Linked DNA regions of Homo sapiens. The protein of the gene in region 1 interacts with the protein of each later gene in a pairwise test. Each region holds a gene or a part of one and is shown in the gene's direction. Other genes may lie near its edges.

Region 1 (3,500 bases):
TATTTTTTCCCATAAAAATCCAAAATTTTCTGTTTACTTTTTGGTGCTCTCATGCTATAAAGTAAATTCTCCCTTGGATTGGACAAGTTATTTTCTGTTTTCTACATACACATAGACTGTTCAGCATTCCAACTCAAATTACATATTACTTTTTCAGCTTTTAATATAAATGCTTATTTACTACAAGCATGGTTTACAAAAATGTAGTAAAATATAGTTACTAACCAGTCAATGCTCAAGCCAGTGACTCCCCAAATGATTCAGTCCCTGAGCTGTTTCACCCAGTGCAGGTAGATTCTCTGACAGCCATCAGTTGGATCTGTCCGAATATCTCCTGTTTTGACAGGGGCTTATTGATGTTGGTCAAAAGACAGGTGTGTATGGGTTCCCTGGGATCATGTTTGAGGGGAAACCTGTGCCAACAGGACTGAGCAGCCACTTTTTCAATGGTATTGAGAAAATTTGTAGGAGATAAAATTTCACCAGCTCCTTGAATCTAGAACTGTAGATATTCAGGTAGCACTGACATTACAACATCTAATTTGTAAGTTATGGGTTAGGGCAAAATCAATCCAGGGCTGCCATCATGACAAGTAGTGGAAGTTTGAAAGAAGGAGAAATACCCAAAAGATATCTTACACATAGCAGGCAGAGTTTCTTAGTACTAATAAAAAATAAAGTACCAGTGATCACCCTCTATAGCCCCTAAGAGTCCCCTGGTTTCACTAAGCCCCAATATTTGTGGCTGTGGCTGAATGCAATCTGCACAAGGTTTTCTTTTTAACAGTTGGAAAAAATCTCATAGCATAGCATTTTTTTCTTTTTAACAGTTGGAAAAATTCTCGTAGCATAGCATTTTTTTCTAGTAAATTTCATATACTTAACAACTTTATCAGCACATATATTTTCCTTCACACTTACAATTTCATCAACACATATACTTTACTTTTTGACTCAAATTCTTCTTGCCATCAATTCAAATGCTCCTGCCCTTAGAATGAGAATTTTCCATTAACCCAGCTTTAATAATCTAACTCTCCCATTCAAATGATGTCACTTCATATAAAACACATTTTATCATGATGTCTCCCAGCCCTCAGTTACACAGTTAATTGCTGCCACTTTATCATGAATGAAAAAGATGTGATTCTTGGGTAATGATTTCTTGAGTATGTCCTGGTCTATTATCTACTGAGTTACCAGAGTGGATTTTTGAGAGAACACACAGTTATTCCTATTCCTTTTAATTTCCATTAACTTAAGCCATATGATAGAACATTACAGTTGTTATATATTTTGTATAAATATAAAATGTAATATATAATTTATATATTTTAAAATATTTAGTGGCAAGTAAAGATAGTAGTAAGTGAAAAAATCACTGTATAACATATGAATCGTAAGTGTGATCCCATGTATGTGTATACCTGGTAGATGCTTGTCAAGGTGCCATTAAGGTCTTGGGTTATTGGCATCTTAATGAAATTCATTTAATTATGTTAGGATTGATTTGTTAGTAAAATCACTTACATGTTTTTTAAATGCATGCATATCTGTGGAGCCAATAAGAAAAATTAGGAACAATATACAACAAATCTTAAGAGCTTTTGAGGATGATTTTTTTTCTTTCTTTCTTTTGTATGTACCTACAAAATTTTCTATAATGGATCTCTATTGATTTTATATTTTTTACTTTCTATTTGTCTTGGAATTTCTATTACTTTATTTATAATTCACTCTAGATTTTAGGTACTAGACAACTACTATTAACTCTCTGGAGAATGGTACTATAAATCTGACCCTTTCTGTCATTTTTTTTTCCTGTGGTACACTAGTGTCTCACAAAGAGTCCACAGAATTCACACGGTCATGATATTTTATAGAAGAAATCATTTTATGGGAACTTTCTTTTGTTAATAGATCCTTCCAATGCTAACATTATTCTGTATAACAGTGCTAAAGTTGGTATGCCTAAATGCTAAACTTGGTATGCTAAAGTTGGTTTAAAAATTAACCTATATACAATCTTCTTGAATAACTCTTCAACTTTAAATAAATTTCTTATTTAAAAAATCCTCCTATATATAATTAAAAATACTGATGAATTTGACTACATAAAAATAAATGCTTATACAGTAAAAAGTACCATAAACAAAGTTATCATCTAAACAAGAAACCTGGGAAAGCTATTTGCCAGCCATTACATGTAAAATTTAAGTTTCCTTAACATAACATGAGCTCTTTAATGTGAGAAACAATAAACAACCTAATTGAAACATGAGCAAAAGCCATGGCTGAGAAAACTCGTAGAAGAATTACTATGGAAACAATAAGAAAATGAAAAGAAGTTCAACCTCATTCATAATTAACGAAATGCAAGTCAAAACAAAGATATACCTTTTACTTATCAGATAAAGAAAAAATGATTTGATAAAACCCAGATTCTTGGTATTATAAATTGGTATAACCTTAACGGAGGACATTTTATGAATATCTATCAAAAACTTAGCATATACAAACAATTTGGTTCAACAGTCTGTTAGAATTTATTATATAGATACATTCATATAAGTACAAAAGTGCATATATGTAAATATTATTATTGGGACATTTTTGTAGCAGCCAAAAGGAAAACTGAAAAAAAAGATTAAGGCTCATTAATAGCAGACTGGTTAAATAAACTATGTGTGAGTACAATGAATGAAATATTGTACAGCCATCAAAATGAATGAGGTAGATTTATATATGCTGATGTAGGAAATCTGCTAGCCATCATAAGTAAAATAAATGAAACAAAGAAGAAAATACTATGATGTACAAAAAGAAAAAACTATAGATATACATATTTATATGCATGTGTATGCATTTTTTATGAATATACATATTTATATGCATGTGTATACAAGTCCTAGAAGGAGACATAGGTAACTATTAGTAGTACCTCTGGGAAGTAAATGCAGAGAAAAGTAATAGAGGGTAAGGATATGTTTACTTTTATTTTACATCCTTCTGTAACTTGACATTTATACGACGCGTTAGCATTACTTCTGGGAAAAAGAAAAACAGAAAAGGTAATCTTTTAAAAAGGTATTTTTTAAATTATGGTACAATAAAATGTGCATAAGCTTTATACTAAGTAATAGAATCATTTAAGTTTAGCTGTAGATTCACAAGTAAAAATCCAATCTATTTTCATATTCTTACATTTATAGACATTTCTTACATGTCTATAGAAAGAAATGGCTAGGAATGAGACTGCACTATTTTACCCTAAAACGTTCTTTTTCTCTTTGCCTAATGTATATCTACAAGGGCATTGGGGAAGATGTTGACCACAGGCAGGAAGATGATGAGATCCTGTGCCCACCACTTAATGCAGTCTAGCTCTATATAAGGAAAAATATGTTCTTGATGTGAACCAGATGGTTTCACTCCCTTCAAAAACACTCTTAAGATGCAGTGTGGAAGCTTACTCTGTAAATTAAAAAATAAAAACCTGA
Region 2 (3,500 bases), on another chromosome or scaffold:
CCTCCTTGCCCCGCCTCCAGCTTCTACCTTTGGAGACTCCAAATGGCACTCAGTCTGTCCACTGCTGTGGGGACCCACCCAGTCCTGGCTCACGCAGAGCACACGCAGGGCTTACCTGCCCCAGTCCTGGTGTGTCCCTAGCTCTACTCTTTTGCCCTGGTCTTGGGCAGGGCTAGGTGGCATCCTCAGCCCTCTCACCCATCCATCCTCCACAAAGCCCACCCTCCGCCTCCACCACCGGCACATCTGCCGCTTGGCTTCTTCCTGGGCTCTCGTTCTTTCTGCTTGCACCCTACAGCTGCGGATCCTTCCAGAATTTAGCCTCAGGTTGCAGTACTGTGTGCAGAGCCCAGGCCACAGCTCACAGCCTGCATGCTCTGCCCCGTTCCTGCACCTGGAGCCCCCTTCCCAGTGACACAGGTCCTCATCGCCTTCATAGTGGCCACTTCTGAGGCCTTTCCACCCTCTCTGGATTCCATTCTCACCTCCTCTCTCATGGCACTCAGCACTCCGATTTCTGTGACTTTCTTGATCATGCGTCTCCCCTGGTGCAGTGTGAGCTCCCTAAGGCCAGGGGTCTGTGCCCAGTCTGTGGTATGTGGTGGAGCCCCAGTGAGTAAGAGTTCCTGGCTAAACTCCAACATTATTGGGAGAGTCCCTACTTCATTGACTTGGAAGCTGAGCCACAAGGGACTCTGTGATGTGCCCATGTCCGCAAGCAGGACATAGAGCCACATTCGGGGGACCCAGACCCCCCAGTCACTGCCAGATCCCACCCCTCAAGCGTGCCTGGTACCCTCCTGGCATTTCTCCCCTCCCAACCCTCGCATGTGCCCACTACGGGAACAGGGCCTTCCATTGTCCCCTTGGCTCCCAGCGCATGGTCAGAGCTCAGGAAATGCAGAGTGTGGGCAGAGGGAGGGACAGATGGTGAGGGTGCCCCTGTCTGTCCGCAGGCCCGGGAGGTCAAGCGGGAGGCCCTGGAGTGCAGCCTCAAGTTCGTCGGCTTCATTGTGGTCTCCTGCCCGCTCAAGGCTGACTCCAAGGCCGTGATCCGGGAGATCCAGAATGCGTCCCACCGGGTATGGGACGGTGCTCGGCTCCACCCTCTGCATGGGAAATAGAGGCGAGGAGATGACAATTACAGCTTCGTGGTAGGGGTGGGCACCCAAGTCTCACAGGCTGCATGTTTTAGCTGAGCAAGATCATAGCTCAGGTGCTAACATTGCCACTGGCCCAAGGACACTCTGGGACCCGCCTGTGCTGGCTCCTCTCTCCTCCACAGACCACTCCCTTCACTCCCCGCATCATGGGAAGATGGGGGCACTTCTCTCCACTTCCCCGTTCCACCGCCGTCCTGGAGAGAAGGAAGCTGAGGCTGGGGAGTTGGGTGGGGGGCACTGTCTGCCTGTCCTGGTGGCTTCTGGTGGCTTGTGTTTTCTATTTTGGGACTTAGGGTGTCTTTTAGGGTGTAAGGGGTGAGTGAGCCGTCTCAGAGGATGATGGCTCTGGGTCACATGGGTGATGTGATTAGTCCCCACCAAGCCCAGAGGTCATGGTCCCATCCTCCTCTTTGCTGAAATATTACCCCCATGGGCAGCTACCAAGCCAAAAGGGTCCACCTCAGGGGCAGGTTGTTCATTTGTATTGCAAATCCAAGCTAAGGGTGTCTTCAGAAGGACGCACATACACGTGTCATTTGTGTAAAATGACCTGGGTGGGGGTGGGTTGTGGCCCTTGGAAGCCCATTCAGCATCTCGGTTAGAGGCCCAGGATCTCCCACTGTGGCCTACCTTAGAAGGAGACTTGGCAGCCTTGTCTCTGGCCTAGAGCTTGGCCCCAGGGTGCCATGCTGAGCCTCTGCCCCTCTTTACCCAAGGTGGTCATGATCACGGGAGACAACCCGCTCACTGCATGCCACGTGGCCCAGGAGCTGCACTTCATTGAAAAGGCCCACACGCTGATCCTGCAGCCTCCCTCCGAGAAAGGTGAGGCCCTAGCCTGGCCCACAGTGGGGAAGGGGGACCCTGAGTCCAAGAACAGCTCCCATCGCAACAGCCCACCTGTGTACCAGGCCTCAGCAGCACAGTGTCTTCAAATGCCTGGCACCACTAATCACAGCCCTGGCCCACTGGGCACCTCGGACAGCATGTGAGCGTTCACTGGGTCGCAGGTCCCAGGATGTGCGGCATGTAGGTGTTTATTTACCATAATGAGGCGATAGTCTGACTGCCAGCTCGGGTTTCCTGTGCACTCATGGGCAGATACTGCTCCTACCACGCTTACTCCCCATCCTCAGTGTCATCCTCATTTCACACCCTCTTTGGCCCGGCAAGCTGCCCATGTACCGAGTGCTCCCTTCCCGAGCACAGGGACTGCTGGCATCCTCAGCCACAGTTGATGGCAGTTTGCCCAGTGCTCAGCCTGACCAGACCCCAGGCGGAGCGCTCCGTGCGTGTTACTGCGTTGGTCCCTCCACCCCATCCTGCACCACACGGGGTGGCTTGCCTTCCCCACACCACAGAGGAGGAAGCTGGCTGGGTCAGCTCTCGGGGCCCTGCTTTGTAGAGAAGGGACAGAGGCTCAGAAGTGAACCCACTTGCCCAGGTCACTTCCAATCCATGGCTAAGGATTGGAATCCAGACAGCCTGATTCCAGAGCTCAAGGCTCCAACCTCTCCCCAGTGACCTCTTTGAGCAATGCCCTGGATTCAGATTGATGAAGAGGCAGACATAGAGACCCAGCCCCTCCCAGCTAGAGGTGTGGGGCTTACCAGATACCTGCCCCAGAGCTAGAGGTGAAGCCCCTGTGGGCGCACGCAGTTCAGGACCTGCATGAGTGTTGACAGGGCCCTAAGAAGAACCACATGGAGCAGTGTTGCCACAGGGCTGCTGGCAGCAAACATTCACAGGTCTGGGCCAGAGCAGCTTCCGGAACCTCCAGGCCACCTCTCAGAGGACTCGGTCCCTGCCCTCCCTCTGTTCTATTGGTCGCAGGCCTCCCCCTGTCCCAGCCCCAGCTACCGGGGTCTTCCAGGGCCTGGGGATTGTGGGCAGGTGGCATGGAGCGGATGAGCAGAACTGTTGATTGACAAGCGAAGCTGGTCTAGCAACAGCTGCAGCACAAGCCAGGTGGAAGTGTGCTGCCCTTCAGCTTGAGATGGTCCAGGGTGAGCAGGCAGTGCCAGGAGGGCTGGCGGGCCGCCCTTGGCCATCCTCAGCGCCCAGCATCCAAGCCAGGGCCAGCCAGCAAGAAAGGGGAAGTGGAGCAAGAAGATGTTGAGAACTCAGGGGCCCTGTCAGAGTTGGGAGGGGGCCCAGCCCCGAGAAAACAGGATTTCAGAGAGGCCACGGGCGCAGGGATAAATGAGGTGAGGGCCTGGTGTGGGGTTTCCCAAGGAGAGCGCAATAGCCCCCTTCTGTGTGTTTCAGGTTAGGGGGCCTTGCATGAGGTGGGGGCATGGCTTAGCTGGGGTCAGACTGCCCAGGTTCTAATCTGGC
Region 3 (3,500 bases), on another chromosome or scaffold:
GGTACTTTTCAAATATTTCTTTGATCTGCTGAACAACTCACTGATGTAGGTATTATTATCCCCTCCTTAGAGATGAGGTAACTGAGGCACAGAGAGGTTAAGTAACTTGCCCCAGGTCACACAGCTGATAGGTGGCAGAGCTGGAATTGTTCAAAATTGCATATCCTAACCCTTTATTGAGTTGTGAAATCAATTTACTGGGTTTCAACAAGCATTAAAAAGAAAAAGGAAATAGCATAAGAAATGCCAGTGTATCACCACATGCAGTAAAGGTAAGTATTGTTTCACTCGAAGAACAACCATTTTTCAGTTATTTATATGTCTGTTTACACGTGTGGGTGTGCTGGGTTATGATGTAGAATGGATTTCTTACTATGGGTCGTGGCCAAAGAATGAAGTCATGGCTGTTGAAGAAGCTCATGGCACGAGAAACTGCTCTCCCTCTACCCCACTGGATCACCCGCAAGTCCCAGAGTTGAGGCTGACACACTTGTTGGGGAAGGCAAAGCAGTGCCCCACATAACTTGGTGGCTTTCACAGCCACCTTCAAACCCTGTTCTTTTCAGAAAGCAGATGGCTCAGGGTAACTGCAATTCTGAGTATCGTGGGGCAGGTTTCTGAAGCCACTCATCCCCCCGGAAAGTCAGCGTTATCTTCAGGTTGACTACATGGGAGCCGGGGTCTGCTGAGTTTCCCTTTGGGTTTCAGTGCCTGACCCACTTTGGGCTGGCAAAATTCTTTGAAAACATGAATGCTGGGGGTGCTCCAGAGGACTCGGGTGGTGGTGGCAATGGCAGTCTGTGACTGCTCTGAAAGTCTGCTTTGCTTTTCTCCACAGGGCTTGTCAGCCCTCACCCGCTCGCTTACTCTGTGACTGGCGAATCACCTTTCTTGGCTTTCTTGGCTGGCCTAGGCCGGGGCCAACACCACCTCTTTCCAAATCCTCACCCTCTGGTCTCCTCGGGGCCTATCAGCTTGGCAGCCATTGTGTTTCCTGATGGCCGGAGGAATTTGCACGCCCAGGAGACTGGCGTGCAGGCCTGAGATGGCCCCTTTTAGTCGACACCAGCTTGACTAGTGCTCACTAGCACCCAAATGATGCATGTCCAAGATTTTCCAGATCTGTGTGCCCTGGCCCCTATGGCTCACTGCCCTTGAGGGGATGCCACGTGGTACTTGTGGGGCTGGTGCCAAAAGAACAGGTTTCCTTCTTGAAAACGAGCAGGCATACTGCAGGTACAGTTTTGTTCTTAATCTTCTCCCTCCCCATTTTTCTAAGAACCCCTCTTCTCTGTTACCGATCAGTGAGTCAGTATACATTTGTACTTGATTTCTCTTACTATCCTCATGTTGATTGAAGTCATAGCTGCCCTTGAGTTTTTACTGTGAAAGACGGTTCAAAGATAACTTGTTTCTTTTTAAGCCCACAATTTCAAACTCTCTTCAAAGTGGAGCCCTCCTGGAGTGTTTGTTACCAGCGTGGTTGTGTAGTCAGTGAGTGTAGAGATGCAGTTCCTTGAGTTTTAGTTTTTGCATTTGTAAAAAGGAAGGGTGTTGTTTTGAAGGATAGATGTGAAGGTTTTCAAATGCCTTGGTGTGTCAATGAGAGGGGCCCATGGTGGAGGAGGTGAACAATACATGCTTGTGCTTTCTGCTTTCATATCTGACTTTGGAGAACGACTTGTTTGCTTCTGTCGATGTTGTGGATCTTGGGATTGGCTCAATGGCGTGACCTGCTTTTTGGATGTTCTCGCCCTCCTCAGCCATGGAAAGGGTGCTCTGGGGGCTGAAGGATTGATTGTGTATTTGTTTTTCTTTCTCCTTCCTCCAACTGAATTGTGGAGTCCTTTACCTGCTGGCTAGCTGATTCCTGAGTGTTCTCCTTTTTCTGTCTCACATCTATGACTGCAGTGGCTTTTAGAAGCCTGTTTGTAATATATGTCCGGACTAGGCCAGATGGAGGAGAAGGCTTGCCTGCTACTGCGCACAGGTGGGAGGGCTGGCTTTCTGTCTGTCTGTGGGCCTTCTTGAAGAGGCTTGGTTTAGAAGATCCTAGGAGGAGGATGTTTTCTGTCATGAAGGACTATGGTAACAAAAAGAAGTAAGTTAGTGCAGCCTGGCAGAAATTGTGTTGAAACAAAAGTCCAAAGACCTGGATTTTAGGACCACGGAGGGGATTGGTGTGAGACCAAGCTGGTTTGCTCTGAATCTCTCTTTCTCATCTGTGATGTGTGGGAGGTGGCAGCTGGGCTCCCAGAGTCACCCACCCTAGGCCCTGTAGTATTCTGATTCAAGTACCTCTGGTGGGATTTGTGAGTCCTAGACAGTAGAGAAAGACAGACGGTCCCTTCTAGACTCTAGATCCGTATATATGGTTCAAATGTTCTCCCCGAGGGTGTTTATAGAAAGCAGTTCTTGCAGCCATTCTGTGTCTAGTGGCCTCCTAGCCACGCATGTCCCAGGCCCATGGAGGTAGGGAAATGGGGAATGAATATGTGGGCAAAGGCAGGTCCAAAGAAAAGCCTGCATGAAGGAGGAGGGAGGGATCTTGTCTAGTATTGATGCCTCCCTCTATCTACTTCTAGAAAGGATGGAGATGGGTTGGGTAAGACCCCAGTCTCCCTCATCCAAGAAGCAGCAGCTGACTGGGTAAGAGCCAAAAGGCCTGGGTTGTGATGTGAAGTGTATGACCTTGAGCCATTTACTCAGCCTCTGTTTTATCCTCTGTAAAATGGAGACAATAGTACTGCCTGCTTCAGAGGATTACAAGTACCTGTCTCATAGGGTGATTGTGAGGATTGAATTAACACATGTTGCCCAGGCACCGTGGCTCATGCCTGTAGTACTAGGACTTCGGGAGGCTGAGATGGGAGGATCGCTTGAGTCCAGGAGTTCACGACCAGCCTGGTCAACGTAGGAAGACCCCATCTCTAAAAACAAAATACAAAAAAACAAAAACAAAAACCAAAAAACCCCAAAAACTTCTTTAAAAAAATGTGAAGCACTTAGAACAGTGTGTAATGCCATAGTAGGTACTATGTATGGGTCAGATGGTGATACTCGTTTCTGTGAAGGTAATTGGTTATGGGTTTTCAAAAAGTTTCAACCAGGCCGGGCACGGTGGCTCATGCCTGTAACCCCAGCACATTGGGAGGCCGAGGAGGGTGGATCACCTGAGGTCAGGAGTTTGAGACCAGCCTGGCCAACATGGCGAAACCCCGTCTCTATTAAAAATACAAAAATTAGCTGGCTGTGATGGTGGGTACCTGTAATCCCTGATACTTGAGAGGCTGAGGCAGGAGAATCACTTGAACCTGGGAGGCAGAGGTTGCAGTGAGCCGAGATCATGCTATTGCACTCCAGCCTGGCGACAGAACGAGACTCCATCTCAAAAAAAAAAATTTTTCAACCATTGTCAGAAGTATCAAGAATGTCACATTGCCTCTTAGGAAGAAAAAGGTGTGGGCATTCGCCCCAGCTCCTCTCAGGTTTTAGTCAAT
Region 4 (4,002 bases), on another chromosome or scaffold:
AATGAGTGAGTGAATCTGAATTAAGATTTAACTGCCCTGAGAGTAAGTGTTGGTTCTGGTCATTAGAATCAGTTGCCTCGTTCCTGGACAGAGTTCCTGGGAGCCTCATAGAACATTCTTATTCAGATTCTTCTGGTTTTAGACTCTTTGTGGACCCCACCCTTCGGTTATGACAGCATTAACTGGGTATGTGACACTTAGGTTACACATGGTTTACTCTCTCTGATGAAATGTGGGAGACACTGTGGCCTCTGTAGCCCATTTACAGATCATTTCATAGGGTAACTTTATTTTTTTCAAATCTTGTCCCAAGTTCTATGAGGGTTCTTGTTTTACATTTTCCAAGTTACTAACTTCCAGCTCAGGTAGGTAAGGGACAACTGAATTGTGGTGGCTGCTATTTTTTGTGCAGGTGTTGATCTACCGGCTGTCAAGGAGTCCAAATGGAAGATCTCAAAGCCCTTAACAGACTATAACAAAGAAGAGATTGGCTGAATATTCATACCCTTGTGAGTTCAAGGGAGTTGTAGGGATGGTCTGGGTAGCCATGCAAGTTCAGAGAGCTCATTCTTTCTGCCTCCTTTCAGCTCTGCCTCCGCAGCTGGCTGATTTTAGTATACGAAGCTCCCTGTAAGCCCGCAGCCTATCGACTTCCACAGTCCCAGACTAAGGCACCGAAGCCTTACTGTTCTCTCTGGAGTCTAGGTCAGGTCCTGAGGTGAAGGGGTAGGGTGGGGGCGGGCAGGACGCAGGTGCAGCCCCGTGGTCCCGGATCTAACTCACATCTCTGGGAATGGGAACCGAAGTCACCGCTTAGGTCTCCCCCAGCGGTTTTCGGTTCAGGTCTCTGTGCTCCTCACCTGGATATGGGCGCCCTGGGGGCCTGGCTTCCTCCGCAGAGACCAGAAGCGATCTCTGTGTTCCGGATTTTCCCTTTATCTTTCCTCTCCCCAGTGTCCTCTCTGTTTCCCAACCTCCCCATACCGAGGACCCCACAACCCGCCCCGGGATGGCGCCTGGCTGCTCGCACCCTAATTCAGGACCCCAATTGGTGGGAGAGGAACCGCGGTCCTCAAGCTTGCAGGACACAGGGCCGCTGCCCGGAATGCTGTGGGGGTGGGGACCCTCGCCGCCCCGCCCCCACCAGCGGCCTGCCCCGCCCCCTCCCACGCACGTCACGTCCGGCCCGGCCTCCGCCCGCCAGCCGCTCTCCTCCCGCTCGCCGTTAGGGAGGCTCTGCACCTCAGCCGCCGCCTCTGTCGCCACTCTCTCCCCCTGTTCCGCGTCTGCGTCGCCACCACCGCCGGGGGTATCCGGGGGGTCGCTTACCGGGCTGGCCCCGCGCCACAGCCGTAGCTTTAACCTCCCGTCAGCGGCCGCCCCAGGAAGAGGCTTCTCGGCCGCGGAGCCACTTGGGGCCTCAGTTCTCGCCCTCTTGCCGTCGCCGCGGGTCCTGGAGAAGCGGCCGCGGCCAGGGAACGGGGCATCGCGGTTCCAACGGTAGGTAAACGGGCGGGTACCCGGATCTGCGCATGCGCGGGTTGCAGGTCGCCGCGGCCCTTCCCCTCCTGTTGCCCCCCAGCGCCGCCTGCCACCCGCGCCTGCTCTCGGGCGTTGCGTTTCGGGATGTGGAGGACTCTAGCAGGTGGGGCGTTCCGTGGAGAGGGCCCCCTTTCCGCTGGAGAAAGAGGAAGATGAAGCCGTGTCCCTGGCTGCCGGGGGGTGTGGCAGCCTTGGATTTGCAGCGGCTGCAGTGCAGTTGAGCGGGCGTGCCCCTCACCTCCAGCCCCTCCAGAGTAGATGGCGCGACACCCCACGTTTCTTTGCTGACCTCTCCTGCCCGCTGGCGCTGCGCCTCTTCCCCGCCCACTTCCTTCATGCTGGGCAGTGAAGTTGATGTAGAAGAAAAAGGAGTGTGTTTTATTCTGGGCTCAACTGCGCCCCTTTTTAAGGTCACGTGAGATGAGTGGTTGCGGACTTCCTTAAATCGCTCAGAGAATATAGCCAAAATTGGGCTGTTGGTGCACTGGGGCCTTGTCTAGAATGCGCTCTGCATAGGCCAGGCTGGAGGGGGACACTTTGTATAGCATTAGGGTTCGCGTGGCACGCCTGGTTTCCTAGATGAGGTTGTAGGAATCGGTTGGCACATTTGCGCAGTGGGAAACTGTTAAGCCCTTTTTGTTTGTAATCAGTTAAAATCAAACTGACTTTTAGAAAGACGGTGGATTATTTCATTTGGTTCCCCGTTTCGCCTTCTAATCAGTGAAAAAAGTTGGGCATTTACTTTGAAGGATCTGATAATCTAAAATGGTAGCCAGAATCATTACCAGTAGTAATGCAGACTATTAACATTAACTGGGGTGCACCTGTTTAGAGAGACAGACATTAAAGGGTGGTTTTGAATTATTTGTCTTTTTAGAGCTGGGTTAGTGTGAGGCTATTTTCAACCTTCCTTTTTTGGTAACCTTGAAATGCTTGTTGGCCTGGTTTTCTCACAGGTACTGTGCATTTACTAAGTGCTTGTTGATGGAATTGAATGGACTGATAATTATTTGTATATCCATTGGGAGCGCCTTCTTACTTTTTTTTTTTTTTCCTTGAGACAGTTTCGCTCTGTCGTACAGGCTGGAGTGCAGTGGAGCGATCTCGGTTCACTGCAACCTCCTCCTCCCGGATTCAAGCGATTCTCCTGCCTCAGCCTCCTGAGTAGCTGGGACTACAGGCGCCCGCCACCACGCCTGACTAATTTTTGTATTTTTGGTAGAGATCAGATTTCACTAAGTTGGCCAGGCTGGTCTTGAACTGACCTCAAGTGATCCGCCTGCCTCAGCCTCCCAGAGTTCTGGGATTACAGGCGTGAGTCACCGTGCCTTGCCCCCTTCTTACTTTTTTAATCCGTGCTGCTTTTAAAATTGGAGTAATAGTTTCTCCAGTTTAATTTTATTACTAATTTAGACACGTGTGTGACACAGCTTAAGTTCTTGGAAAATGTAGAAGGGCATATTGCAGTGGCATAATTCATTGGGTGGTGTAAATGTTAGTTTTTTTTATTAGAATGTCATTGTTTTAGGAGAGAAAATGGCTGAAATGAATCTGTTGACTTGTCAGTGTTTCCCCACCAATAAAATAACTGCTTTTATAATCAGTTATGAATAACCTCAATCCATCGCTGCATAGCTCCTCCATCATCGTATTCAAATTTTAAATTTGGGGACTATAATAGTGTAAATTACTGTTTTGTTTTTTTTTTTGAGACAGGGCATCACTGTCGCCCAGGCTGGAGTGCAGTGGTGCAATCTCGGCTGACTGCAACCTCTGCCTCCCAGGTTCTAACGATTCTTCTGACTTAGCCTCCCGAGTAGCTAGGACTACCGGTGCTTGCCACTGCGCCTGACTAATTTTTGTATTTTTTGTAAGACGGGGTTTTGCCATGTTGCCCAGGCTGGTCTCAAACTCCTGACCTCAGATGATCTGCCTGCTTCTGCCTCCCAAAGTGCTGGGATTACAGGTGTGAGCCACCTTGCCACCTTGCCCAGCCTTACGTTCAATTTTTTTTTTTGGGGGGGGGGGACGGAGTTTCATTCTTGTTGCCCAGGCTGAAGTGCAAATTTTAGTGTGTAAATTATACCTTAATAAATGTATTTTTTTAAAAACCCACTGGTGGACTTTGGAGAGCTTATACTCTGTTGGTAGAAACAGACATTAAACAAACACAAAATGAATATGTAATAAAACTTGTGGTAAGCCAGGCTCACGCCTGTAATCCCAGCACTTTGGGAGGCTAAGGCTGGAGGATCAGTTGAGCTTAGGAGTTTGAGGCCAGCCTGGGCAACATAGGGAGACTCTCTTTACAGAAAAAAAAAAAAAAAAAGCCAGGCATGGTGGCATGCTCCTGTTGTCCCAGCTGCTCAGGGAGCTGAGGTGGGAGGATTGCTTGAGCCCAGGAGTTTGAGGCTGCAGTGAGCTGTGATGATGCCATTGCATTCCAGCCTGGGGGACAGA
Region 5 (2,165 bases), on another chromosome or scaffold:
GTGGCCAAAGGTATTTTACAGTAATTATGTTCAAAAATATTTCCAGTACTTGCACCGTTTGCCACCTTAAATGAATAGTGAACACTATTGCTATCCACCTGAAACCTTCAGCTGTTAATTTTAGCAAAGCAGTTCTTAGATGTTTCAACATTACCAGTTTAAATTCTTAAGAATCCATATAAATGGTTTATTATAATTCCAAAAGTGAGTGACTTTACAATTTTACAGGGGTGAACATATAAGGGAAATGGTGAAGCAAATCAATGATATCCGCAATCATGTAAACTTCTGACACCACCAGGAGCTGACTCACACCTGAACTGAACACCATTGAAGGCTTAAACCCATATTGTAAAACAGGTAGAATTATCTAATTTATAAAAAGGTGTTTTGATGACCTTTGGTGTGGTTCATCTTTTTAAATATGTTGTTTTATAATAATTGAGTAAATGCTTTTATTTAAAATTTGGAATGTGCTTTATAACTCAAGCCTACAGTTGTGTTCAGCAAGGACTCAGGATTATTTCACACTGCACACTGCCAGAACCTCCCTGAACCCTATTGAGTTTTCTCCATATTTGAGCAAGTTAGTTATTCTTGTGAGCTGTGTTTTAAAGTAGCAGCACCAGAAACATGACTCTGAAGAGGGATAGAACCCTAGGATTCAAAGGAGAAGACCACACAGTGTACTTGGCAGCAGCTTTTTTAATTTGAACACTTTCTTCTTGAGGACACACCTTCAGTACAGTTAACAAATGGTTACACCTGAAATCTGCTGAGAGCAGAGCTCAAGATCCACAATTGCAAAGGCCACTGCTGGCTCACTTCCTCACAAGCTGTATTACCTTTCAGAGCTGAGTGAGGCTGTGCTCTACGTCCCAATACTTGTTACTGAGTGGACATGAGGTGCAAGTTTAGCACCTTAAAGGGAGAAAAAAATAGGTTAGTATGCAGAATGTGATTTTGTCCTCACTTCACCTTAAGTCATCTTTTTACACTTGCCAATGTGAGTTCTGAAAGGTACTACTATATCTGCTTAGAAATGGCTGAGTGACTGTCAATTAAAAGCCACATGATAAGGTAGGTTACAGGTAAGAGGTAAATCAGGTTAGACATGCATGAGAACATGTAGGCACAGACTGAATATAAGCACAGGAACACTCGTGAAACCCAACTGAGCTTTTCTTTTGCCTAGAAGGGCTAAATCCTGCCTTCTACATCAGTTCCCATTTATGCTGAAAACCCAGTTGAAAGAATTGTTTCCTACCTGGACAGTGACACAGTAGTTTGTTTCATACCAGAAACACATTGCTAAACAAAACTTAAGAGTCTCAGTTTGGGTTTTTCTACAATAAAGTGAATTCCAACAGTTGGCATTTGCCACAGTAGAGACCACTAACCATTCCCTAATTGTGATGATTTTATTACCCAGCACCATCTTCTGGAGAAAAATATCTGTAAGGTGCTCAGTCTCAGCAGAACACTTCACTGCAAGCTCTAGTTCAGTCAGTTCAGAAAGGCTGTGAATTGCCCACCCTGATTTACAGCACTAATTTTAATAATCTGAAGACAAATTCGCTTGGGGCTTATCCAAGGGACTAGTCTTAAACCTACGTAATTTAAATTGATTGCATTTTATAATTAATAAAATCCCCTGTAACTCAATAGTTATATGTTTCCTTTATCTAAACCATGTAGCACTCTTTATAAAGGGACTTTAAACCAATTAAAATAATGTTTCATGTGCGGCAAGCCTTTAGTACTATTTCCATAATTGGTATTTATTTTTAAATTCATAACCATGAATGCAAGACTACAATAATAACCCAAGAGATGAGGTATGTAGTACTTATCATTTGTCCTATGGAAGACAGAAGTACAGAAGATCTTTAGGGTAAGTCCATAGTGACCTCATTTATAACAAAGACAATTCACTTTAAGTTGATGGTGGCGTTATGTGAACAAAACAATCTACCTAGTTCACTAACTCCCAGAAGGCTCTTTCAGGTACCCTGCTGTTATGCAACCAGTCTCAAAAATGATTTGAAAACCATCTTACTTTTGAACCTCCTGGATGATGAATCCATCCACTGGATATTCCTGGGACAGTACTCTCAGCAGGTATTGATGAACATGAATCAATTCTTTGTGCTTTCTGTAGCACT
Region 6 (3,500 bases), on another chromosome or scaffold:
CTCAAACGATTCTCCTGCCTTTGGCCTTCCAAAGTGTTGGAATTACAGATGTGAGCCACGGTGCACAGCCTGTGCCAGGTTTTAATCTGCTTTATCTTGGACTCCAGGTGAAAGTACATGGTTCAAGTTGCTGGTAAAAATATTTACTCTGATTTTCTTTTGTTCTTGATTTTCCTGTAGTTCAAACAAGCTGTATATAAACAGACAATGAAACTCTTTGCAGAGCTGGAAATTAAAAGGAAAGAGAGAGAAGCCAAAGAGATGCATGAAAGGTACATATCAGTATATTCATTTAAACCATATTTAAATACCTAGATTAACTAACATTGGTCTTTGGTGATTTTCCTAATGAGGGAATTATATAGTATACCATTTAAGAGACTATAAAAATAGTTACCTAAAAACAGTCAAGCTTTTGAATCACCAGGGTAAGTAGTTTTTTTCTTTGACTTTTGAGAATTATTGAATAGGTCTGTCCTTAGGGAGTGTATTTTTTATTTATTTTTTTGAGACACAGTCTTGCTCTGTAGCCAGGCTGGAATGCAGTGGTGCGATCTTGGCTCACTGCAACCTCCACCTCCCAGGTTCTAGCAGTTCCCCTGCCTCAGCCTCCTGAGTAGCTGGGACTACAGGTGTACACCACCATGCCCGGCTAATTTTTTGTATTTTAGTAGAGACAGGGTTTCACCATGTTGGCCAGGATGGTCTCGATCTCCTGACCTCGTGATCTGCCTGCCTTGCCCTCCCAAAGTGTTAGGATTACAGGCATGAGCCACTGCATGCTGCCAGGGAGTTTATTTATAATCAAGAGCCTTGTGTGTGTTCTTCCTGATGTCCTGGAGTGAAATAAGCAGTTATTAAGGCCATTGTTACTGAAGCCAGAACCTTTTGTGGGGCTAGTGGCTACAGCTTTGGTGAGTGTATAGTACTGTAGTGTCATCAGTAACAAAATGTTTAATGTTCTAAAATATGATTTCTCTTGAACATCAGAAATGTTAGAATTTCGCTTTTGTTGCCCAGGCTGGAGTGCAATGGCATGATCTTGGCTCACTGCAACCTCCACCTCCCCAGGTTCAGGTGATTCTCCTGCCTGGCTAATTTTTGCATTTTTAGTAGAGACGGGGTTTCACCATGTTGGTCAGGCTGGTCTCGAACTCCTGACCTCACATGATCCACCTGCCCCAGCCTCCCAAAGTGCTGGCGTTACAGGCATGAGCCGCTACATCCGGCCGAGTTTTGTTTCTGTATGTATTTTATATTGTTGCTTGGTAGGTACCAGTAACTAAAATTTGCTAGTTGAGGTTGTGTGAAATATCTTTGTTTTCGGATAGGGTTTTGTCCAGAGATCTTAAGAACTTTGGCTTTATAATGGTCATTCTGCTGAAATAAGGTGGCCTGTGTTCTCGACATAGCTTTGTCACTGAAAGAGCCCAAAACCTCAGATTGCTCTTGGCTGGGCTTTAGTTACTTTATCTGTGTAACAAGGATATTTATGTCTTTCCCCACAGCCATGCCCAAGTCTGATCTGCGTGTTTTAGAATGAGACATTCATGAAAATGCTATGAGCCCTTTCCAGACAGCCATCTTTGTAGACTTCTAGGGAATTGATTTACTATATATGCTTGCTTCTGTGGGGAGATGCCACCTTGTATGGTTAATTCAGTCTGTAAGTATCATATAAATACTATGATCTGGTTTTCCTCCTAGGAAACGACAAAGGGAAGAAGAGATTGAAGCTCAAGAAAAAGCCAAACGGGAAAGAGAGTGGCAGAAAAACTTTGAGGTAAATTTCCAAGGTGGCCAGGGATTCTAATTCCAGAATAAGGCAGCTTGGTTCCTGTGGCGCTCCCAGGACTGAGTGGGGCAGTCAGAGGGGAGTGGGATATGTGGGGAAGAGTGGGAGAGGTGAAGAATGAGGCTGGGCCTGCCTCAGCCTCCTGTAAGCTCTGTAGCCTTGGCAAGGACGATGAGGATCCCTGAATGGCTTTTTTAAAATTTATTTTTAAAAATTATTGTTTAATTTCTTTTTACAGCACACTAACAGTTTCACCCTGAATGGTTTTTTAGATTGTAGTAGGCACAGCTGCCCAGTGGGCTCAAGAAAAATGGATTGCACTTTTAATTTAGGGGGTAAGCATAGAGTATTGTGCTGCTTAGAGATCTGTTAGTAGATGCTGAAGTTCTTGTGCCCACAGTGTCCTACCTGCAGAGAGAGTTAGAACCTTTGAACTTGACTCTTCTTTGACACCCTGGTTATATGCTTCAGGTGGTTGGACAGAAGGATTGTGGCAACATTCGGTCTTTTCTTCTATAGGGTTTAGGACTCATGGTTAGGGGCTGGCTAATCAGAGTTGATGACTTTGTTTCTGTTGCACTTCATGTATGGAAAGAGAAAAAATGATAATGAGGTAGAGGTCCTAGTGGCCACCCCTACACAACTCGCTAGGCATTGTACTGGCTTTGGAGCAGCCATCCAAGTTTTGGGGGGCAGCAGAAAGGTGCAGTGGAAAGAGTAGCTGTACTGCTAGCTAGCTGTATGGCTTTTAGAAAATCATTTAACCTTTTTGAGCCTCAGTGTTATTTGTGAAGCACTGGTAGCAGTACACACCATAGTCGGCTTTTGGTGACAATTAGAAATACCATATGCTGGCCGGGCGTGGTGGCTCAAGCCTGTAATCCCAGCACTTTGGGAGGCCAAGGCGGGCAGATCATGAGGTCAGGAGATTGAGACCATCCTGGCTAACATGGTGAAACCCTGTCTCTACTAAAAAAATACAAAAAATTAGCCAGGTGTGGTGGCTGGCACCTGTAGTCTCAGCTACTCAGGAGGCTGAGGCAGGAGAACGGTGTGAACCCAGGAGGTGGAGCTTGCAGTGAGCCAAGATTGTGCCACTGCACTCCAGCCTGGGTGACAGAGCCGTCTCAAAAAAAAAAAAAAAAAGAAAAAAAAAGGCCGGGTGAGGTGGCTCATGCCTGTAATCCCAGCACTTTGGGAGGCCACGGCAGGCGGATCATGAGGTCAGGAGATCGAAACCATCCTGGCTAACACGGTGAAACCCCGTCTCTACTAAAAATACAAAAAATTAGCCGGGCGTGGTGGCGGGCCCCTTTAGTCCCAGCTATTCAGGAGGCTGAGGCAGGAGAATGATGTGAACCCGGGAGGCAGAGGTTGTAGTGAGCCGAGATCGCACCACTGCACTCCAGCCTGGGCAACAGAGCGAGACTGCATCTCACAAAAGACAACAACAATGACAACAAAAAAAACCATGTTAAACGTCTAGCCTCGAGGTCCCCAACAAATGGGGCCTCAGTGTTGTGATGATTATTACTGATTTCGTCCTCCTCTTGCAACCTGCAGCTCATCCTGCGTTCTAGGGGTGCTATGACACTTTCTTGGGCCCTTGGGAGTGGGAAGAAAGCTCTATTCTACTTTTTTTTTGAGACGGAGTTTTGCCCTTGTTGCTCAGGCTGGAGTGCGATGGCGTGATCTTGGCTCACTG
Region 7 (3,500 bases), on another chromosome or scaffold:
TTGTGGATAAGCCACCTTCTGTAAGTTTATGAAGTAGTATGATCTTTGTTTTTTATTTACCACATTAATTTCATTGATTTTTAAATATGAATATTTATTTTTACTAAGGTTAATATAAGCACAAGTTAAAAAGTCAACTCACAAGATTTAAAATGTCACCCACAATTCCCAGTTTCCAGGTGCAGCAACTTTCTGTTCTTTTCATTGCTTCTAATGTTTACTTTGGTGTTTCTGGTTAGTTAGTTGAGATGAGGTCTCACTCTGTTGCCCAGGATAGTCGTGAACACCTGATCTCAGGTGATCCTCCAGCCTTGACCTCCTGAAGTATTGGGATTACAGGTATAAACCACTGCTCCTCGTCCTCCTTTGATGTTTCTAAAGAGCATCTTCTGCTTTTTCTTGGTCTATCAGTTTTAGACCTTGACTATTTTTCATCAAATCTGTGTTATCCGTTATAAGAAGTACCATTGTTTTATATGTCACTAAAAGAGAAAAAACACTGCCAATTATAATTGTTCCCAATTTCAGAGATGGAAAAAGTTCATCTTAGAATTAATGAAATATTTTTGAAAGATGGGGATTTAGCCTGTTTATACAGTGCTTCCCTTTTTCCCTCTCCCCATTCTCCCAGTAAGGATACATCACAGTTTTTGTTTTTTGTTTTTTGTTTTTTTCTGTTAGATCAGCTTTCGTTATTTATATTACTACATGTTTGCTGCTAAGCCAGGTAGTATTTCCTTTCTTACATAAGTCACCCCTCCCTACTCTCACCTTGCCTTTTTTTCATTGGCTTATTATTTGGGGTACATTGGCTTAGTTCTTCCCGAACTTTTTAAAAGAATTATAAAGTCCCGGCTGGGTGCAGTGGCTCACGCCTGTAATCCCAGCACTTTGGGAGGCCGAGGCGGGCAGATCACGAGGTCAAGAGATCAAGACCATCCTGGCCAACATGGTGAAACCCCATCTCTACTGAAAATACAAAAATTAGCTGTGCGTGGTGGCGTGCACCTGTAGTCCCAGCTACTCAGGAGGCTGAGGCAGGAGAATCACTCGAACCCGGGAGGCAGAGGTTGCAGTGAGCCAAGATCATGCCACTGTACTCCAGCCTGGTGACAGAGCGAGACTCCGTCTCAAAAAATAAGAATAACATAAAATCTGTCCTAATATTATTTTCCACAGGGTGAAAGTCAACAGGTAATCTCTCTGTTCCAGCCCCCCTTCATTCTGATCCAAATCTAAATTGGTTGCTCTCAGGCCAGCTGCACAGGTTCATCTGGAGGATTCCTGTGCTGCTGATCTATATTGTATTCCGTTTCCTGTATCTTGTGTCTTCTGCTTTCTTGATTTCCTCCTTTACTGTAGAACGCACCCTCTAATAGCTTTCCGAGAAAAGGATACATAGGTGGTAACAGTCTGAAATGCCTTTATTCTATCTTCAAATGTGCATATAATGGATATAGAATAGTTTAGAAATAATTTTCCCCTGAAATAAGAAAAGCATCATTCTGTTCCCTATTTTATTGTTGAAGTAGGAAGGCATTGGAATTCCTGAACCTTTGTTTAGGATTTTTTTTTTTTTTTTTTTTTTGCTTTTAGACCCTTTCTGCATCCCTGCTGTTCTGAAATTTTATGATTGTGTGCTGATCTCTTTTTAGTCTTTTTTCTAAGTAATTAGTAACCCTTTTCAATCTCCAGAGTCATATCCTTCAGTTCTGGAAGTTTTTTAAAAGTGTTTCTTCAAGAGTGTTTTCTTCCCATTTCTTTTTCTGTCAGTATATTATGTTAGTTTGGATGTTGGGCCTCTTTGAGCCTCTGATTTTTTTCTTTTCTCTCCTACTTGCCATCTCTTTATCTTTGTATCCTACTTTCTGGGAGAATGTTTTCTAACCCTTTTAATTTTTTATTTTGATGTTAACTTTTTTAATTTATTTTATTTTATTTATTTTTTTTGAGATGGAGTCTCGCACTGTTGCCCAGGCTAGAGTGCAGTGGCGCGATCTTGGCTCACTGCAAGCTCCGCCTTCCTGGGTGCACGCCATTCTCTGCCTCAGCCTCCCAAGTAGCTGGGACTACAGGCGCCTGTCACCGTGCCCGACTAATTTTTTTTGTATTTTTAGTAGAGACAGGGTTTCACCGCGTTAGCCAGGATGGTTTCAATCTCCTGACCTCGTGATCTGCCCGCCTTGGCCTCCCAAAGTGCTGGGATTACAGGCGTGAGCCACCACGCCCAGCCAACTTTTTTATTTTTAATAAGAGTTCTTATTCCCTGAATGTTCCTTTTTAATAACATCCTGATCTTTACACTTTCTCTTATTGCTCTAAGGGTATCAATTTTAAATTTTCTTCATTTGCCTTTGTTGTCTTTGTCTATTCTGAGTTGTTCCGTATGTCTGTTTATATGGAAGAATGAGACATTAAAGCATATCAGAAGCTCTGGGTATACACAGAGCTCGGGGATTGGTGGGCTTCACTGTAGGGTGATTGGATGTGGACCAGGTTGTTTCTCTGGGGAATCCCCAAACATTATTCTCTGTAATTCTTTTATCTGGGACTATTTAGTTTATCTGGAAAAGAACTCCAGTCTCCTGCCAGTTTCCAACCATCATTCTAGGAGCCTGCAACTGTATTTTGTGTCCCCTAGTTAGTTTTTCTTTCTTTCTTTCTTTCTTTTTTTTTTTTTTTTGAGACGGAGTTTTGTTCTTGTTGCCCAGGCTGGAGCGCAATGGCGTGACCTCAGCTCACGGCAACCTCCGCCTCCCGGGTTCAAGCCATTCTCCTGCCTCAGCCTCCTGAGTAGCTGGGATTACAGGCATGCACCACCATGCCCGGCTAATTTTGTATTTTTAGTAGAGGCAGGGTTTCTCCATGTTGGTCAGGCTAGTCTCGAACTCTGGACCTCAGGTGATCTGCTCGCCTTGGCCTTCCAAAGTGCTGGGATTACAGGTGTGAGCCACCGCGCCCAGCCTAGTTTTTCTTTCTCAAGCCTCTGATCTTCTGCAGAGATGAGAGAGAGGGAAATGCTTGGCTCTGTGGAATAGGGAAGGGAACCTGGGAATCTGTTTCCTATTCAGACTTTGAACATGTTCCTCTATTTTCACCTTTTCCTTACCACCACCTTCTATGGTACCTATTGCCTCTAGTTTATGGGCCTTACCAGACCTCTTCAGGGCAAATAAGCATGCTTCTCATTTGCATCCTTTTTTTCAGGACTGAGGCTTCAACTTTCTCAGCTCTGCTACCTGCTGTTCCACTTGCATTCCAGCTTCCAAAAATATGTTAACATTTCTCATCCTTTGTTGTTTCATCTCACATTCTTTTGTCCTTAAGGGTGTTTTGTTTTGTTTTTTTCTATTCCTTTACTATCATTTTAGTGGGGTTTTGGGAGGGATGAAAAATAAATACATGGGTTCCATATGCCAACTGCAACTGAAATTCTCATTATTTCCTTTCCTGGAGAAAACAGCTACAAGCTTATTTTCGTAACAGATTTAAAGAACTAC

Evidence for each region.
Region 2: the proteins of AGTR1 (region 1) and ATP13A1 interact in a two-hybrid assay, tested with the Homo sapiens proteins (one large-scale study listed by BioGRID and IntAct).
Region 3: the proteins of AGTR1 (region 1) and PPP1R3F interact in a two-hybrid assay, tested with the Homo sapiens proteins (one large-scale study listed by BioGRID and IntAct).
Region 4: the proteins of AGTR1 (region 1) and FAM13B interact in a two-hybrid assay, tested with the Homo sapiens proteins (one large-scale study listed by BioGRID and IntAct).
Region 5: the proteins of AGTR1 (region 1) and NUP88 interact in a two-hybrid assay, tested with the Homo sapiens proteins (one large-scale study listed by BioGRID and IntAct).
Region 6: the proteins of AGTR1 (region 1) and DNAJC8 interact in a two-hybrid assay, tested with the Homo sapiens proteins (one large-scale study listed by BioGRID and IntAct).
Region 7: the proteins of AGTR1 (region 1) and ADD3 interact in a two-hybrid assay, tested with the Homo sapiens proteins (one large-scale study listed by BioGRID and IntAct).

The regions. Positions count from the first base shown.
Region 1 is NC_000003.12:148,704,403-148,707,902, forward strand, and holds part of AGTR1 (type-1 angiotensin II receptor), read left to right. Parts: intron 1-3,500. UniProt on the Homo sapiens protein: Receptor for angiotensin II, a vasoconstricting peptide, which acts as a key regulator of blood pressure and sodium retention by the kidney.
Region 2 is NC_000019.10:19,650,177-19,653,676, reverse strand, and holds part of ATP13A1 (endoplasmic reticulum transmembrane helix translocase), read left to right. Parts: intron 1-956; coding exon 957-1,082; intron 1,083-1,879; coding exon 1,880-1,988; intron 1,989-3,500. UniProt on the Homo sapiens protein: Endoplasmic reticulum translocase required to remove mitochondrial transmembrane proteins mistargeted to the endoplasmic reticulum.
Region 3 is NC_000023.11:49,276,293-49,279,792, forward strand, and holds part of PPP1R3F (protein phosphatase 1 regulatory subunit 3F), read left to right. Parts: exon of another isoform or gene 1-1,102; coding exon of another isoform or gene 1,103-1,236; intron 1,237-3,500.
Region 4 is NC_000005.10:138,030,280-138,034,281, reverse strand, and holds the start of FAM13B (protein FAM13B), read left to right. Parts: upstream 1-1,202; 5' UTR 1,203-1,500; exon of another isoform or gene 1,501-1,508; intron 1,509-1,558; exon of another isoform or gene 1,559-1,952; intron 1,953-4,002.
Region 5 is NC_000017.11:5,384,333-5,386,497, reverse strand, and holds the end of NUP88 (nuclear pore complex protein Nup88), read left to right. Parts: intron 1-157; exon of another isoform or gene 158-228; coding exon 229-292; 3' UTR 293-1,665; downstream 1,666-2,165. UniProt on the Homo sapiens protein: Component of nuclear pore complex.
Region 6 is NC_000001.11:28,202,030-28,205,529, reverse strand, and holds part of DNAJC8 (dnaJ homolog subfamily C member 8), read left to right. Parts: intron 1-180; coding exon 181-272; intron 273-1,707; coding exon 1,708-1,783; intron 1,784-3,500. UniProt on the Homo sapiens protein: Suppresses polyglutamine (polyQ) aggregation of ATXN3 in neuronal cells.
Region 7 is NC_000010.11:110,126,484-110,129,983, forward strand, and holds part of ADD3 (gamma-adducin), read left to right. Parts: coding exon 1-20; intron 21-3,500. UniProt on the Homo sapiens protein: Membrane-cytoskeleton-associated protein that promotes the assembly of the spectrin-actin network. Plays a role in actin filament capping. Binds to calmodulin.